Linked DNA regions of Homo sapiens: region 2 is linked to region 1. Evidence: fine-mapped expression QTL. A gene starts in region 1. The other region holds a variant in brackets. All regions are shown on one strand. Distances are between the middles of the regions.

Evidence for each region. PIP is the estimated chance that this variant, and not a neighbour inherited with it, causes the effect.
Region 2: its variant is fine-mapped to the expression of ELAC2 in whole blood (INTERVAL, PIP 0.97). The same link has a PIP of 0.9 or more in iPS cells.

What each region holds. Positions count from the first base shown.
Region 1 is chr17:13,013,942-13,024,243 of GRCh38, forward strand. ELAC2 (elaC ribonuclease Z 2) reads right to left here and starts at 4,086. Exons shown (of 24, transcript NM_018127.7): 1 at 3,762-4,086; 2 at 3,130-3,180; 3 at 2,921-2,991; 4 at 1,827-1,891; 5 at 498-555. The coding sequence starts at 4,006. RefSeq lists enhancers at 3,402-3,902, 3,414-3,523, 3,544-3,603 and a silencer at 4,124-4,203.
Region 2 is chr17:12,989,056-12,997,784 of GRCh38, forward strand. It overlaps ARHGAP44 (Rho GTPase activating protein 44), which reads left to right. Exons shown (of 21, transcript NM_014859.6): 21 at 977-2,588. The coding sequence ends at 1,116. It overlaps ELAC2 (elaC ribonuclease Z 2), which reads right to left. Exons shown (of 24, transcript NM_018127.7): 17 at 7,492-7,630; 18 at 6,885-6,923; 19 at 6,648-6,757; 20 at 5,908-6,007; 21 at 5,709-5,829; 22 at 5,370-5,448; 23 at 4,632-4,776; 24 at 2,557-3,990. The coding sequence ends at 3,763. Among named protein-coding and RNA genes, the nearest start is that of ELAC2, 25 kb to the right of the region's middle. The variant T/C (reference allele first, on the strand shown) is at 3,702.

The DNA.
Region 1 (10,302 bases):
CTGTTCAATCACTCCTGCCGACCTGGCCCCTATTTTTACAGCATGAGGTGGGAACACAGAAAATGTCACTATTTAGAAATCCCATCTCCAGCCACATGGTAGCTCATTTTGGGAGGCTGAGGCGGGCAGATCACAAGGTCAAGAGATCGAGACTATCCTGGCCAACATGGTGAAACCCCGTCTCTACTAAAAATACAAAAAATTAGCTGAGCGTGATGGCATGCGCCTGTAGTCCTAGCTACTCAGGAGGCTGAGGTGGGAGAATGGCTTGAACCCAGGAGGTGGAGGTTGCAGTGAGCCGAGATCATGCCACTGCACTCCAGCCTGGTAAGAAAGCAAGACTCTATCCAAAAAAAAAAAAAAAAAAAAAAATCTCGTGGTGATGAAGCATTTGATTTTGAGGTTTGATGTTGATGTTTTTAATGGATTCTAATTTGAGAGGTCAGGGCATATATAAGTTAGAAATAGCAGAGGATGAGTCACAGACAAAGACGTACCCAGTTCTATTCCTTTCAATGGACCAGAAAATATTTTGATTGCTTCGAGGTATTTTTCCTAATGAAAAACAAAGAAATGAGCAGTTATGGTTGAACAAATGTAGAACACAGCAACTATTCAAGTATTTAAAAGGTTACCAATAGGTATCAACATAAAACAAAGCTTAGTAAATATTTTGAACATCATTTATTACAAATATTTACTGAGTATCCATTATATCAGATGCCAAGGATATAGCAGGAAAAAGAGATGGAGGCCTTGCTCTAATCAGGCCAGTGGAGGAGACAAAAGGAAACACGATAACAGAAACAGCTTAGTGGCATTATGCTAAGTGCTCTGCAAGGAAAATGAAAAATACAGAAGGCTGGGATCCAACTTGTCTAGAGAAGAAGAGGCAGTTCTGGAGTAAATGACCCTCTAGCTGAGCCCTGAAGGTTCAGTAACAATATAGGCAGCAATTAGAAGAGGCAGAGGGAACCCGCGGAAGGGCGAAAGTCCTGAAGTGGCCAGGGAGTTAGAGGGACATAAGAGTCAGCCCATGCAGCTGCAGTTCAGCGATGGGTACAGATGGAAGTGTGGGTAGCGGCCGGGGCCTACAGGACTTGTAGGCCATATCAAGGTGTTTTGATTGTATTGCAATGGGGAGCCCATGAAGGGCTTTAGGGTGGCAAGTGACACACTACTTTTCTGTCTTGAAGTGACCTCTCTGGCTGCTGTGTGGCAGATGGATTACAGGAAGGCGAGAATGAATATGGGAGGCTATTGTAGTTTACAGGCATAGAAAACAGAAATAAGGAAGGCCTCAATAAGAGACAAATGGATGGATTTCAAACGTTATTTTGGGGAAAGACTTAACAGGTCTTGGTGACTTTCTTCTTAAGGACTGGAAAATGAACTGTTATATTCAACAACACACACACGCCTTCTCAAGAGTGTAATAAGCTGGACTGAAAGGTAAGAAGATGTCAGAAATTTATTGAATAAAAACAAAAGCTGCCCTTTCTTGTGTGCCTACTTGGTGCCAAACATATATCTAATAAAGTGATTTAGTGCTTTATATGTGCTGCTACGTCATTTAATCTTTAACAACTCTATGAAACGTGATAGTCATCTTATAGATGAATAAACTAAAGCTCAGAAAGGTAAAGTAACTTGATCAAGGTCACATAGTTAATCAGAACTCAAGTCTTTTTAACTTGAAAGGGGAAGCGTTTCAACGACCAGGTATCTCTGGAGGGCAGAAGACTGATTTGCAAAAAGGAAAATTCTTGTTACTGATATTACAAAAGGAAAGATTGCTTTTGAAAGATGTGTCAGGAAAGACTCACCAGTTGTGGAGGTCCAGAAAGTACACACTTTGGAAGCCCGGTTTCCTTTAAAGTAAGAATCATTCCTAAAAAGGATGCATAAAATCAGATCTCTCATCAATTTGACCTGTCGTCACTAACAGGAGGAGCACCCCGTACTAATCCAACTATTTATCTACATCTCCACCTTCCAGCTTTGGAAGTACAACCAGGGAAGATGTACAGAGCAGAAGTGATGCCAGCTAGAGGTGTAACAGACACCAAATATTCTTTAAATGCCTCTAGAATGGGCTGAGCTGTCACTAGGGTGAAGCAGCAAGGCACCCAGTGTGCAAAATGTAAGGAATCATGCAAGTGAAGGGCTGGCACCCTAAGTGCCTCACCCTAGTCTCAGCCCTGAGAAGGGAGACTGGTCTAACACTTCACTCCTTCCGGTCCATGCCACCAAGCCCACACAATTTGGCTGCAACACAATCCTGACCTTCCGGTTGATAGACATAAATGACAGGGTAATCTGGACAGTGGGTATGTGTGTGGCTGCCAATGTGCCAATGGCGTCTGCGGTAAACATATTAACTGTAATCACCACTGCTAGACTCTCCAGTTTACTGCCACAAATCTCTGTCCCCGCAACGCAAGAAACTAAGTGGATGGTAACACTTAAGAGGTGGTATCCATATTAAAATCTGTTCTCCTGAGTCACAGCTTTTAATGCTCTGTGCTGCTGCTGACTGGGCTGGTATAAAAAGAATTCCAGGCCAGGTGCGGTGGCTCATGCCTGTAATCCCAGCACTCTGGGAGGCCGAGACAGGAGGATCGCAGAAGTTTGAGACCAGCCTGGGCAACATAGCAAAACCCCGTCGCTACAAAACATACAAAAAAAATTAGCCAGGTGTGATGGGGCACACGTGTGGTCCCAGCTATTTGGGAGGCTGAGGTGAGGGGATCACCTGAGCCCAGAAGGCAAAGGTTGCAGTGAGCCAAGATCACGCCACTGACAAAAAAAAAAAAAAAAAAAAAAGTAGCTGCCCACCCCAGACTTGGAAAAATGGTAAAGCCGGTTAAAATCCCAGAGACTTCCCACCAGCCTCTGACACTGCAAAGAATATACTCACCACTTAAGCCCCCAACATTAGACCAGTGCATTCGTGTCAGGAATATGTTGTCCAGGCGAGCAACCTTTAACCTAAGAATGAAAAAACATTTAAACAGGATAACATGAACAGAACAAGGACCACTTTTGCTATAAAAAACAACTGGCCTCTCATTTCGGCTTTCAAGCCCCGTAATCAACTCCCCCTCCGAAAGCAAGAGACTGACTCACTTGTGCTCCTGCATGAGTCTCTGAACGCCTTCTCCACAGTTGAAGAGATACCTACAAGACAAACATTACACAAGACATTCAGAAGGTTTTATTCTGTAAACTCTCTGACACCAATTAGATGTTTTATTGTAGACTCTGGAAAAAAAAAAAAGAAAAAAAAATTAAAAGTCCACGTTGGACTACCGAGCCACATTTATGCTGGTGGGTTTTGAGCCCTCCTTAGCAGAGGTGGAGAGGAGTGGGGGCCTGTGTGTGTGGGTGCTAGGACAAAATGAGTCCTTTCTCCACCACCGGCTACACACCAGATCTGTCCACCCCACACGCTAACAACGACACACTGGCCTTGGGGTGCACGGAAGAGGGTGGAGCTCCGAAAGTGCTGACAGCCAGGCCGGGGCCCAAGGGTTGGGAAAAGGACGCTCAGACCCAGGCCTGAAGTTCTTCACAGATCCGCAGAAATCACATGGATGCAAAGAATCTCGGATTTCCCACCCACCATAACTCCACGAACCCCCGCAACAGTGAACCACATGTGTGAAGCAGGGAAGCCGAAGCCCTGGGAGGTGCCCCGATGCTCAGAGGCTGCGCCGCACTGAGGGCCCAGCGGGACGGGGCGTGGCTCGTTGACTGACCGGTTGAACTCGGAGAAGACGTAGAGCGCGGCGCCCGAGTCCCGGCTACCCGCTGCCACCACCTGCAGGTACACGGTGTTTGGGCCGCCGGAGCACCCCGACGGTCCGCGCTTCTCTCGCGTGCGCAGGTGCCGCAGCGGGTCCTTGCGCGGCCGCTCGCGGCGGGCGGGTGCCTGCGATATGGTGCGTCCCTGCGACATGGTGCGTCCGGCCGCGGACCGCAGCAGCGAGCAAAGCGCCCACATGCGCCCGTCTCCACCAAAACTGAGAAAGCCGCCGGTCACCTACGCCCGCGTTTCCCGTGCACCACCTAGCCGCTCCGCATGGCGGATCCAGCCAATCAGCGCGCCGTGCACCGAGCTTCCCGCCTACGCGAGGCTGCTCATCCAATAGAAAGGAGCTTTACCGCTCGGGACTTGTCAATTGACAGTGGCCATAGAGTAGAGGAATACTAGAGCGTCTCAAGCGGCCCCGCCCCTAGTTCTGTTCCGGTTTGCCGGCCGCAATTTTTTCCGGAAGCTGTTTTTCTCCTGGGGCGGGACTTCCGGAAGCACAGTGCCAGGAAAAGCCTTCCTGGGGAAGGCGGGACCTAGGAGTTTGGAGTTTCGCTAAAACGCTCCTGTTCTCACCAGATAAGAGCTGTGTCCTCCGGGCACGTCAGTCCCTCAGAGCTTGAGTTAGAGGTGGTTGTAGTGGTTGTGAGGATTAAATGTGAGGAAATCAATTGTATTGAGCATTAGCATAAGCGCTTTGCTAATTTTATTTCCATTGTAATTCGTATGCATACATGTTAGAACTTGATCATTTTTACGTGGTGTCCCGAGCTTGTAGTCCCAGCTACTTGGGAGGCTGAGGCAGGAGAATCGCTTAAGCGCGGAGGCGGAGGTTGCGGTGAGTCGAAATCGCGCCACTGCACTCCAGCCTGGGTGACACCTCGAGACCCTGTCTCAAAACAAAACAAAACAAAACAAAAATTGTAGTGTTTTTTGGAAAGAAAAGCAAGAATAGAGGACAAGCTCTAAAGCAAGAGTCTTGGCTCATTTGTTAGCTGCGTGATCTTGACCTCTCAGAGCCTCAGCTTTCTTATGTGTAAAATGTAATAACAGCAATAACAGTATCTCCTACTTCAGAATATAGAATTCAGTCACCTGATAATATATCAATAGACCTTTGAGTGGCACTGTCACAGAAGAGGCACCCAGTAAATGATAGAAAATTAATACAAAATGTTTCAACTCCTAGACAATATAGCTGACCAGGGACATCACAGAGGTAGATGTCCCAATACCAGCTTTTTGAAAAAAACACCCAGTCCCCTCTTATGTAGCTAATGAGGATTTCTCACTGAAAGGGATATCAGTTAAAGCCGCTAGAAATACAGGGAGCTCCCTTAAAAGAGGAAGATAATTTACCTGGAAGCTCCACTCAAATATGATTTTTTAAAGATAATTTACCTGGAAGCTCCACTGACATATGATTTTTTTAAATAAATACTGAAAGATGTCACTTTTATTCAGGAAGTAAGGGAGATTCAAGTCATGTAGATTCCTACTCGAAAATCTTGACACCTGACTTTCCAGGATCACATTTTCATATGGAGACCAGTTTCCTCTTGGTTTCTTCAGTTAAGTCAAAACTACACGTTCCTCTTTCCCCATATATTTTTGCTCATTAGTGTATTTCTTGAGCTGTTTTCATTCAAATATGAAATTTTTTATGGAAGATTATCACCCACGGTGTGAAAACGTTTTGTACTTGAAATAACCATCCCAGTGAGGGTCAGGAAAACACTTCAGATCTACTTTACACAGTTAGAGGGCGTTACAAACTGAAAAGATTATCATACCACCATCTCCATAAGTATTTGAAATAAAAATGATAGTTTTTAAAAGTTGCTTAAAGCCTGGGCACCGTGGCACATATCTGTAATCCCAGCACTTTGGGAGGCCAAGGCGGGAGAATAGCTTCAGGCTAGTAGTTCAAAACCTGCTCTGTGGCCAGGCATGGTGGCTTATGCCTGTAATCCCAGCACTTTGGGAGGCCGAGGCAGGTGGATCACCTGAGGTCAGGAGTTCGAGACCAGCCTGGCCAACATGATGAAACCCCGTCTCTACTAAAAACACAAAAATTAGCCGGGAGTGGTTGCATGGGCCTGTAATCCCAGCTACTGGGGAGGTTGAGGCAGGAGAATCACTTGAACCCCAGAGACAGAGGTTGCAGTGAGCCAAGATCACACCATTGCACTCCAGCCTGGGTGACAGAGGGAGATTCCATCTCAAAAACAAACAAACAAACCAGCTCTGGCAACAAAGCGAGACCTCATCTCTACCAAAAAATACTAAAAAATTTAAAAATAAGTAAAAATTAGCTGGACATGGTGGCACACACCTGTTGTCCCAGCTACTCTGAAGGCTGAGACAGGAGGATCACATGAACCCAGGGGTTTGAGGCTGCAGTGAGCTATGATCATACCACTTTACTCCAGCCTGGCTGACAGAGTGAGACACTCTCTACAAAAAAAAAAAAAAAAAAAAAAGAAAAAGAAAATTAATTCATTAAAACTACTTTTAAAAAGTGTAGTGCAATAAATAAAATACTGATTTTTTTCCTGTGATGACTGCTTTGATCCTTTTAAAAAATATATCAAATTTCACAAACAAAAATACATTGGTTCCTCTATTTTATTGGTGCCCTATGTGCATATCTATCTGTTGGGTAATCTCAAACTACTTATCTCAAAATTATAGGAGGAATCACTTTTGGTCATCGACTTATATAAAATTCTGAGGGCTGGATGCTATTTAGGTTGTTTCTAGGGCCCAGTGTACTTTCTGCACTTATGCTTTGGGTCATATTTTTATTCCTGGTATATGAAGACAATAGCTAGTACTTCTTCAATCTGAGGTTATACTGGAATGTAAATTTCATGAGCCTGGGATTTGTCTATCTGGTCCTCTGCTGTATCATTAGCTCCTAGGACAGAGTCTGGCTTGTGGCAGACAATAAATACTAGGAAATTAGAAGCAAGCCAGTAGCTTAAATGAGGTTTTCAGTTTACAACTAAGCAGGGCCTAAAATTGAATCAAGACAACAATGTATGTGTTTTCTGAAGGGGATTGGTGTGACTGGTACCTCCAAAAGGATAGTTCAGAGAGTCTGAAACAGAAAAGTGTCTCTGGACTTGCTGGAGTAGAGGCAGCCTGACCATCGGGACAGCAGAGAAAGTGGAAATCGAGGCGACAGACTTTCAGAAGTCAGTGATATTAACAATTAATATAATACAGCCACTTCCTCTTGCTTTGAGTCTCTTTTTGTTATCCATTTTGTATATGGGCAGCTTGTGGCTTGAAATCACTTTCAGTCCTTTTGTTGGTCACGGTTGTGTTTAGTAAGAATAGCCTGTCTCTGCTCCTTGCAGTGGCTGCTGGGTGGCTCAATGGGAGTGGAACCTCACACTCACAGGTGTGGGTCCTGGGTACTGGCCCTGCTGGGGGTGCTTTGGTTCATTTCCCATTGCCTCTCCATCCATGTAGACTGTCCACATTCAGTAGTTAGGCTGAGCTTCTCTGAATGGTGGTCAGCCTCCAAAAGGATGAAATGAAATTGCAATGCTTCTGAAGAATTAGGCCCAGAAGTCAACGCAAGACACAGACAGCACCCACCTAGATTCAAAGGGAGGAAAATTATATTCTACCTCTTGAGGGGAGAAGTATCAAAGTCACATTGCAAAAGAGCCCTTGACGTGGAAAAGTCCAGGCTTTCTTGGAACCCTCTGATTATCCTACGGGGGGGTCCTATGAAGAGATGGCTGCCAGGCAGAATAATCTGGCCAATGAATGCTGGGAGCAGTACATTTTCATATGCCTGTAGTTACAAAGGTATAATTTATAACTTGACTTTCTTCTGTACACGCTTGTAAGTATGGTTGCCATAAGCTAGTCCACTCATATGTGGCCATCTCTTGGGTATATTTATAAATCAGACTTTTGTACCTACAAAGCTGGGGCAGTTCCTGCGATCCCCAAGATCTGGTGATCTGACCAAGGGACACATACTTTGGGACCCTGTCTGAAATACCCTCTGGCTTTCTCCACACAGACATTCATTCATTGATTCATTCAGTACACTCACACACACACACACACGAGTTTCTAGACACTCTTCTAGGGTTCTAGATGCTGTACTAAGACCTTGGTGTACAGAAAGATGAACAAGGTCTTGCTCTCAGAAAGCTCAGAAAGTTGGTGTCTTGGGCACAGGGATGGGGCCCCAGGGCACACAGGAAAACATTATAATAGATGCTTTTGTCTTCATTGGGTCTGAGGTGTTTCTGGTTTAGAGCCCTAGAAACCCAACAACTCCAAACTTGATGGCCACAATGCATCAGAGGGATAATTGGTTTTTGAAACAAAAGTTACTTTGGGCTGGGCACGATGGCTCACAACTGTAATCCCAGCACTTTGGGAGGCCCAGGCGGGTGGATGACTTGAGGTCAGGAGTTTGAGACCAGCCTGGCCAACATGGCGAAACCCCGTCTCCACTAAAAATACAAAAATTAGCTAGGCGTGGTGGTGGGCACCCGTAACCCCAGCTGCTCAGGAGGCTAAGGCAGGAGAATCACTTGAACCCGGGAGGCGGAGGTTGCAGTGAGCCAAGATCGTGCCATTGCACTCCAGCCTGGGCAACAGAGCGAGACTCAGTCTCAAAAAAAAAAAAAAAGTCTGCAGTCACGTACAGCAATGTCCTAGACCTTCACATTCACTCACTGATGCACCCCAGGCAACTTACAATCCTGCAAGTTCCATTCATGGTAAGTGCCTTATTCAGGTGCTAATTTCTTTCTTTCTCTCTTTCTTTCTTTCTTTCTTTCTTTCTTTCTTTCTTTCTTTCTTTCTTTCTTTCTTTCTTTCTTTCTGTCTCTCTCTCTCTCTCTCTCTCTCTCTCTCTCTCTTTCTTTCTTTCTTTTTTGAGATGGAGTTTCACTCTTGTTGCCCAGGCTGGAGTGCAATGGCACGATCTCGGCTCACCACAACCTCCACCTCCTGGGTTCAAGCAATTCACCTGCCTCAGCCTCCCGAGTAGCTGGGATTACAGGCATGCACCATCACACCCGGCTGTTTTTTTTGTATTTTTAGTAGAGATGGGGTTTCTCCGTGTTGGTCAGGCTAGCCTTGAACTCCCGACCTCAAGAGATCCACCCACCTCAGCCTCCCAAAGTGCTGGGATCACAGGTGTGAGCCACAGCGCCCAGGTCAGGTGCTGATTTTTTATACCACATTTTCACTGTGTCTTTTCCATGTTTAGATAGATTTAGACACAAATACTTGCCATTGTGTTGCAATTGCCTGCAGTATTTAGTACAGTCACATGCAGCCTGGTTTGTAGCCTAGGCGCAGTAGGTTGTACCATACAGCACAGGTGTGCAGTAGGCTGTACCATGTAGGTTTGTGTTTGTGCCCTCTGTGATGTTTGCGCAATGACAAATTTCCCTAACAAGGCATTTCCCAGAACGTATCCTTGCCATTAAATGATGCATAACTGTACACCGGGAACCAGAAAGAAAGAAGAAAGGAAAGTAGCTCAGCCTGGCTCAGGCTTGGAGCGGTTGCAGCTCTGCCATAATTAATGCCACCCAAGCTTTATTACCTTTAGATCCTCAGGGCCAAGCACGGTGCCCGGGAATTCGTGGAGCTCAGCGAGTCTGTGCTGAGGGCATGGAGCATCTGCCCAGCCCGAGTCGCCCCAGGTTGCCATCCCAAAATACCACAGACTGAGTGGCTTCCCCAAGACTTCAATTTTCTCAGTTCTGGAGGTTGAAAGTCTAAGATCAAAGTGTGGGCAGGGCTGGTCTCTCCTGAGGCCTCTCTCCTTGGCTTGCAAATGGCCTTCCTCTTGCGGTACCTTAATGTGGTCTTTCCTGTGTGCTCACATGCCCTGGTGTGTCTCGTGTGTCCTAATCTCCTCTTCTTATAGGGACACCGGTGAGCTTGGATTAGGATCTACCCTAACAGCCTCGTTTAATTAATCACCTCCTTAAAGGCCCTATCTCCAAATGTAGTGACATCCTGAGGTACTGGGGGTTACGGCTTCAACAAGTGAGTTTTGACCAGCCTGGCCAACATGGTGAAACCCCGTCTCTACTAAAAATTCAAAAATTAGGCGTGGTGGCGGGTGCCTGTAATCCCAGCTACTGGGGAGGCTGAGGCAGGAGAATTGCTTGAACTCGGGAGGTGGAGGTTGCAGTGAGCTGGGATCACGCCACTGCACTCCAGCCTGAGCGACAGAGCGAGACTCCGTCTAAAAAAAAAAAAAAAAAAAAAAGAATGGTGTCAGAGAAGGCTTCTCACAGAACATATGGCACGATTAGGATTTTGAAAAAATTGAGAGATTTCCAGGATGGCAAGATGAGGAAGGGTATTCTATCCAGAGCGGGCAGCATGGAGACAGGAAAGGTAGGAGTGTGCCAAGAAGCGATAGGATACACAGCAGTTCACTGAGGGTTCACTTCATCATAGGCACACTTTCCACACACGTGTCCAGA
Region 2 (8,729 bases), 26 kb before region 1:
CATTGCACTCCAGTCTGTGTGACAAGAGCGAAACTCCACCCCCCCCAAAAAAAAAAAAAAAAAAAAAAAACTAAGCAGGCGGAGGAAGGGGACAGCATGACGAGAGTAAAGGACCCAGGGGATCTGTGGTTTTCTGGCTCTCTGGCTGTAGCACATCCTGGAGGAGTCAGCAAGCACAGCCTCGTCAGTGTCCCCCAGGGCGGCGGCTGCAGCAGCAAGGGGATTTTTTTTAACGTGGTGTGGCAAAGAGGCTTCGTGTCCACTCAGCTGCCAGTCTAAGGACTTCTGTCGTCTTTGCCGACTCAGAGACGTCCAGACACTGAGCTGTTATTTCAAGTACATTTCTCCTGTTCATCTTGCCGGGAAAAATGACCTTTTAATGCTCCTAATAAATAAGGATGTAACCAGAGGTGGGGGTTGTCCTGCAGTCAGGGACAGTTGGCACCAATGACAACCAGGGTCCTGAGGGAGACCTTCTACTCCACCCATGTCAGCCATCCAAAATGCAGCTGTTTCTTAGAGTGAGGACACTGGCTCAGGGTTCCCCATTCTCTCACAGGCTTGAGAGGAGAAAGGGGTCCACTGTCTCACGTCCTGTCCCTGCAGATTCTGGGGAATGAAATGCAGTCGTCTGATATAGATCCCCAAAAAGGTGTCATTGAGACCTACTCAGCATCCTTCTTATCAAGAATAAAGGACCCTGTGGCTTGGCAGGGGAGTGCTGTTCTGGCCTTCCTCTGAACCACAGTGGCGTATCCTGGGTGCTTTGGTTCTACGAACTTATGGGGTAGAAGCAAAGCAGGCATGAGCACAACCTGATCGACTGTGCAACACAATGCTTAAACCAACCTCCAAATGATCTATCCCTAGAATAGCAGCACCCCTGCCTCCTAAGGCTGACATTATTTGCCTACAACTAGGTTCTCATTTGCCGGGAAGCCTCCTTTCAACCACCTCTCTCTCTGCCGCCTTCCAGATCTTGTCCACTTTGATATTCCCTCGATCCACATAGAGCTCGGGTCGACGCTCCGCCTGAGTCCCCTGGAGCACATGCGGCGACACTCAGTAACTGACAAGAGGGACTCGGAGGAGGAGTCTGAGAGCACCGCCCTCTGACATGACACCGCCCATCCTGCCTCGCGTGTACATACATCACGGGCCCTAGGAACGCCGCCAGGAGCAGCGTCCATGAGCTTGCCAAGTGTTCTCTGCTGGCTCTTTCCTGCCACTGCCAACACGAGGTTGGAATTTGGCAGAAAATTGTGATCTCCAGTCCGTGTGGTGATGCTGGTGGTGCAGGTTTTGTTTGTTCCTTTCGGGTGGTGACTTCGGCCTTTTGTTTGACCTTTGCCTTTTGACTTTGTGCCTCTTTTGATCCACTTTCAGCCTCCATGCCAGAAAACACCCACCTCTCCATCCAAGGCTGGTCAGGAACGTCCTTTGCAGGGTCGGGGTGGTGCGGGAGAGGCTCACTTTGCCTGGTTAGACCCAAGGGCTGCTACCTTTTCCTTGGACGGCTCATGTCAGGTCTTGCAGGATCAGTTTAATGGCCACAGAAAGGAAGCAGGACAGCAGGGCCCCTCTCACCCACAACTGGACCAGGTCCAGGATTCTAGCAGTCCTGGGGCACTGACCTTTGCCAGCTACCTGGGGGAGGGCTTGCCACTGGAAAACCTTTCAGGCCGCCCCCATCAGTGGGCTCCAAAGTAAATGGCTGAAAACAAAAATGTTTCACTTCCTAACAGTTTTCCTTTTTCCACTGTGTGACTGAAAGCTCCTATATCATTTTATATTTCTGAATCTATAAAACAAAACAAACAAGCCTGACAGTGTCTGGAGGAGCCAAAGGTGGCCTCCCTGTCCCCAAATATATTGGCTATATGAGAGTAATTTTACCCCTCTACGTACCTAAAGGCACCCAGTTCACTAGTCTGTGGGGTCCTGGAGCCTGTCTCTTCTTTCTGGAGGTTCAAACTGAATAGCAATAATTACGTTACCCAAAGCATGTGGAGGAAAAGTGAAACCAGCCACGGAGACGCTGGCCCACGGGCTCGGCCTGCGGTGTGGCCTGCTTTGCTCACCAGCGTCAGCCGCTCATTTCCTTCTCATGAAGTCCCATCTGGTCATGGGGACGAGGGCCGGGAGGGCACCGGGTAGCCTTTTCACACTTGGGGATTAGGGGAGTGAGAAAAGATTTGGGCCATGCATGCAAAGTCAAAGTTTAAAATTTTATCCTTTTCAAATAGATGATATAATATACCTATACATGATATAATATTTGTATATATGAAATCTCTCTATATTTGTTTAATTTGAGCCATTCAATCTAAACCAATGTACAGGTGTACAATGAAAAATTTAAATGCTTAGTTATTTTTCCCAACACAGTGTAAAGTCACCCTCCTCTGAGAGTGGGATGTGCAGAGTTTTGATGTTGCAGCTTTGCTCACTTCCTGGCAAGGGCAGGTCATGCCTCAATTTGTAATGGGAGTCTGGGGTAAGGGTGGGGGTTGAAAGTTGTTATCTTTAAATACATGTACAAATCGTTGTCAAAAGTAACGTTATTAAAATAGATTTATTATCCCTGAGCTTGGCATCTGTTCTTGCTTTAATAAACCTGCGGGGACATGGCCGTCAATCTCAAATGCACACCGGGATGGAGCCTGAAGGTCACCACCTGTGTAAAGCCAGGTCCCTGGCTGATCTCTCGCTTGCTTGTCTTTTGAGTTTTTAAAGCTCTTCTTTTTACATTCTCCTGGGTAGGGAATATACACAATAAATACTAGATTCAACTTACTTACTTACTTACTTACTTTACTTACTTACTTCCTTGGAAAATGCTCTCCATTTGTCGAGCACTAATCCACGTCTGTAAATCCCGCAAGGAGGACAATGGAAACCAGCCCCGTGTGCCATTTCTCAAAACCTTCGAGGGCAAAGTGATCCTCACTCCTCTCAGTATGGAAGCAACAACACAGCAAATCTATTGTCTCCACTTTTACCCAGAACCACCAGAAGACTTGCATTTCCCTGACCAATGACACCAGCCCAGCCAGGCTCTCACTGATTGATTTGATTGATTGATTGATTGATTGATAGAGAAAGCACGCCCTGCTGTGAGCTGGCACAGCTCGAGTTGTCAAAAAGACTTGGCGAATAAGGGTGGCTCTCTGAGGACAGGTTCCAGAGGTGCTCACTACGACGGGAGCTGACTTCTTCCAAGCCACCCGGGTACCAGGCAGCTGCCACACTACAGCACAGAGAGCCTTCTCCAAGGTGGTGCACAGCAGACCCTGCTCTGTAGCAGCAGCAGGAGGAAGCAAAAGAACTCACAATTGCAAACTCAATCTTTATTGCAGCTGAAATACTATTTTCGTTAAGTCTCGGACACTTAGACCCACTGATCCTGTTACTCTGCTTGTCTCTGGTGTGCAGGGAATCACTTTGCTGGATTAGAGGAAAGGTGCCGCCGTCTGTTTCCAAGACTTCTTTAAAAACTGCCTTGAAATGAAATTAGTTCATCTGCTTGCTTCCGTGTGGCAGCCTCCTGGCCCGCGGCTGTGCCAGGCACCAGTCCTAAGAGGCATCTATAGACTAGTGCTTATGTGGGAGCCCAAGCCTCGGCACAGCTCCATACCACCTATCCTGAGCTGCCTCCTGGGGGACCGTGCTCTTCAGCTTCTACCAGCAAGGAGGGCAGA[T/C]ACGGGTGCGTGCGTGGGGCAGAAGACACACAGCCTTCTGAGTTCAGGGTCTCCCAGATCTTCACTGGGCTCTGACCTTCTTGGCCTGTGGCTCCTCTGTGTGGGCCCGCTTCTGCTGAGGCTCCCCATCCTCCAGGCCGCCTGCCAGCTCCCTGGACAGGAGGGCCGCCCGCACCTGCCGCAGCTCCCGCTTCTCCCTGCGCTCCTCCATCTCCTCGATGTCGCCAGCAAACAGGGCTTTCAGTGGGGGAATCAGCTTGGGCATTGTTGGAAAGTCTCCAAAGCAGACCTAGAAGACACAATAGAAGACAAGGACATGTCTCAGAGGGGCAGGGGTGGGGGACAGGAGCTGGAAGGGATGCAGTCATGTGCTCACACAGCAGCGCCAACGCCCCTTCCTTGGCACAAGCCAACAGGCCACAGCTGAAATGGAAAAAAGAATGGCATGGAGGGAACCCTCTAAAGGGGCAGAGGCTCCCCAGGCCTGGCTAAGGGCCTCCGGAGAGGGAAGGGAGAGCAGTCCAGATGCTCTCAAAATCAAGCTCCTGAAAAACGAGGCCTGGCTCCGGCTCTGCCCCTTCATTCCGGAAGGCCAAGGGTCAGGCCTGGCTTTCCCACTCACAAGAGGCAACCACCTGTCTCACAGGTCTGTGCTGAGGCTCAAATGCCATGACTGTGTGAGCAGTCCAGGCCTAAAAGGATTCTCAGAAATTTCCAGTGAACTGAGACTGAAGACTAGTTGGCCCCTGCAGGAGGTGGGTCTCACCAGCAAACCCAGGGTGGTTCGACCTGGTTAGTGATGGGTAGATAACCTTTTCCCACGGTGGCCCCAAATAAGAAAGCAAACTCCAGCTGACCGTCCTACTCAGTGTGTAGAGTCCTGTCTCCCTGCCCCGTCCCCGCCCTGTGCTGTCCGTGTGACATACAGACCTTCATGTGGTCAAAGGCAACTCCCACTTTCTCGCTGAAGTTGGGGCTGAAGAGGGGGACCTTGGCATAGCGCTGGCTGAAGTGGTTCAGCATAATGAACTCCGCGTTCATCCGCATCCCCACGCTGATGGCTTGGGACGTTGTGCTGCAGGTGAAGGACAGAGCAGACTGAAGCTGAACTCAACTGCAAGACTGCAAAGCAGACAGTGGCACAGACCCTGGCCATCAACTGCCAGGGCACCCGGGGAAGCTGGTGGGTTTTCTTAACGGGCACCTCCGTAGCCAGCACAATCTCCCCTGAGGGCCAGAGCCTTCGCACACACCCCTGGATGAAGCCCACCCTCTGTGCTGGCTGCCAAATCTGTCCATGAGGGCACCCAAGAGAAACCACAGGGCCCACCTGGGGTAATGCACTCTTTCGTTGAAATTAGCAGCCAAAAATTCAGTCCCCCAGCCCCCGCCTTCCCCTGGCAATTCCCTGACATGGCTTATAGTTTATTCAGCCGATTTCTAGATGCTTTCAAAAAACTGTGCCTCACTCTAGAATCTTGCTTAGAAAATTCTGCAAAAATAAAGGCCAAGAGCCTGTGAGCACTGCCACAGGTCAAGGAAGCCCCCATAGCCCTTGATAGGAAGCAGGGCAGCCCCACATCAGTGGAGACAAACGACGGCTGCTCAGTGTCACGTAGTGGGGGAGGGAGAGGATGTGGGCGACAAGGACTGACCGGCCTTTGCTACCTGTGTGTCTTTTCCACTGCTTCCTCTTCCAAACCATCTTCCAGGGTGGCTTCATGTATCAGGAGGGTGGCATCTTTCCCTGGAGAAGCAGCACAAGGATCAGGGCAGAGTTCTCTGCGAGAGCGGCACACAGGCCTCAGTCACGTGCTGTTTCCTGGTCTCAACACTCAGCTCCCCTGGCCCTGGGTCTGCCTACTAGGATGACAACCAGAGACTCTGAGGGTGGGGACCTGAGTCTCCTGCCTCTGCTGACGTTTCCCTGCAAGCCCACCTGCATTCACCTCCAGCTACACAAACCCCAGAGCAACCTCAGGGTGGCTTGCTTCTTCCTCTACTCACCCATCCGGACCAGAGCCTCGCAGGGCATGGTGTCCCCGGAATAGACCACTTTCCAGCCAGAGGTGTGCACCAGCGCACAGCCAAACGCATGCTTGCAGTGCCGCACCAGACAGGTCTGAAACTGAAAGGGTGGGGCTGGAGGGCTCTGCAGCTCTGCTCCCCACCTCGCCCCCATGATGCCTGCGGCTGTGCCCCTTACCTCTTCCAAATCACATGTTCGCAACAGCGAACTGATCAATCTTTCCACTGCAGGACTGGAGATCTCAGCCCCTTCCTGAAGGCATTTGGCAGGAATCATACTGTAAAAAGACAAAACATTTAAAATGATAATAAACGTTTCTTGGACATCTGGAACCAAAGTTTAAGTCTTTGGCTGGAGAACCCCAAAATCATTCTTAGGAGAAAACATGAGTTAAATCATAGTCACTATGATGAGGAAACAGCAGTCAAATATAAAGAGCCAAACCAAAGCCTCTAGGCCACTGGGAGAAACCCAGCAGGTGAATGCTGCCTCCGGCTCAGGCAGCACGGGCCACGGATGGCTCCAGCAGAGGGGACTCCTTCCCCTTGGGGTGAGGATGGTGCCACCTGCCAGCTAGCCACACACCTGCTATGGACATTCTCTGTGCTAGCCACTATTTGGGTGCTTGGCTCTGGAACTGTCTCATCAAGAAAAGCTGCTCGAAGTTTAGAAAGCAGCTCAGAACTCAAATGAGGACTGGGAAGAAATGCTTCTAAGAAAATAAGCATTACATGGGAACTATCTAATGGTTTCTGTCCTTCAGCCAATGCACTTCTCCCCTGCTTCTGCCATCTGGGACCATGTCAAGGGCAAGGCTGCTGGGGGATATTGGTAACTACCCCAGTGTCCACCTTGAGCTTCTGAAGGAGACGGCAGCAAGCAACAGCCCAGCGGGCCAGGCTGCCCTGGATGCTCACCTGATGTGGTGCAGGACCTCCTGGCACTGGTTGTGGTACTGCTGGAGCCAGGCTTTGAGCTGGTTGGGGGCAACCACCAGCAAAGGGTGAAGCGGCTTTCCCAAAGATGCCTGGAACAAAAAATGCAAGTGCCGACTCGACGACAGAACATCTCAATAAAAACTGGAGTGCCAAGAGGCATGGCGGATGATGTGTAAACCGCTGAAACTCAGAACGCCCATCAAGTGCCACACTTACCAAGGCGCGTTCTCTCTGCAGCAAGATACTTGGCAAGCCCTGGCAAGGAAACAGGAGACATGCGTCAGCCAGGCCCCAGGGCCATCCCCTCCGGGTTAGGGTCTGCAGCCCTCTCTCTTGCAGGAGTTGCCAGCCCGACGTCACCCACCAGCCTCTAACACAGCCGCAGTGGGGGTGGCACAGGCCGAGCCCCCTGCGCCATGGCCCTGAAATGTCACAGGCAGAAAGCGACACGACCCGTGCTGGGAAGAGGGCAACGGCCCAGGGCCCGGCACCCCAGGAGACCAAGGTGAGGGTCTCATAGCCACACCTCCTGCATCCGGTCAAAGCTTCCGCTGAGCAGGCCGTGTGAGATTCAAGACTCAAGGAAGGCTGGGTAAACTCAAACCTGTCCTGCTGCAGGAAAGGAACTGAACAGGAAGAGAAGACATTCTTGTGGCGCAGAAGGACTATGTTGAGTTTTGCAAAAAACCATTTCCTAGCCAGAGATGAGTAACAAAAGCTCTGGGCAAGTTTGGAAGCGGAGGAAAAGACGCAGCCAAAGGGCCAACTCAACGTGGCAGTGCCTCCTCCAGGCTCCAGCTTTGTGGTCCAGCCCAACACTCACCGTGTGGTGATCTGCGTGCAGGTGGGACACAAACACAGCAGCCAGGGTGCCCAGGACCCTGTCCACCTGGTCTCCGTAATGACGGCACAGCTGCCCAAATGTGCCCTCACCACAGTCCAGTAGCAGAGACGTGTCGGGGCTGCAGAAGAGAAGAGGAAGAGAGTCACTGCCACTAGGAAGACTGCTGATGGTTCAGAGGCTGATGTCTGCTTTGGACAGGACCAAGAAGCAACTGCAGAAATTTCTGTCTCTCCTGCTTTGCTTTGAGGAGCTAATATAAAAGCCAATTAATTTAACCATAAAGGTGATTTTACATGTGTCATCCTCTTTATAGCAAAGAAGTATCCATGGAACCCTGAAACCCTTTCAAGTAGACTTACACAAAGGCTGGGCATCAAAAAAAAAAAAAAAAAGTTTATAGGAGGCTTAAAGCATTTAGTCCTAACAATGAATCTGACCATGCAGATTGACTGTGGCCACAGCCTCTGTTGAAAATACCAGGACAGGCACTGGGCCATATGAGACTCTTTCTAGGTCCAGCTGCCATCGGACTTTTCCCCCTTTGCAAGTGGTCGGGGTTTCCTCAGCTCATGTCCTCAAAGACACCTGGTGCAGGGCGGGCTGCAGGTGCTTCATTCAGGGAGCCAGTTAACGCAGACTCCCAGGTGTCACTCGGGGTTTCTGACTTGGTTTTAGGCAGGGCTCTGGAAGTCTGGATTCTGACAAACTTCTTGGGCTATTCTGCTGTGCAGTCCATTTCAGAAGCTCTGCTCCAAGGCAGAGAGAGTGCTGACCCGCTCTGGCCTCCTTCATTCTCTGGGAGGAGCCACGAACACTGAGAGGGCTGCACCCATTTTGCAGAGAGAAGCCCCGGTGCTAAGACATTACCTTCTGGGGGAAAAAGGAGTCGGGAGGCGGAGGCAAGGTGGCAATAGCACCTTCCCATTAGCTTCAGCTGGTTCAAAAGCTGCTCGCAGGGTGTCAGGTCAAACTCAAAAAGCCCTTCTTCCCCCAGGATCTCAGCCCCCGGGAGAGGCCGGCTCACTCCAAGCTGCTTTATTGCATGTCCTCATCCACAGAGAAACACACCCCAGATTGTATATTTCTGATGTCAGGGCACATCTCGTCACTGCTGTATATATTTAATGCACTATTTGGTTGTTTATCATCCACCACTAGCATGTAAGATGGCAGAGCAAAATTTAAAACAAACCTGGTAATTCACAATCTTATTTTCT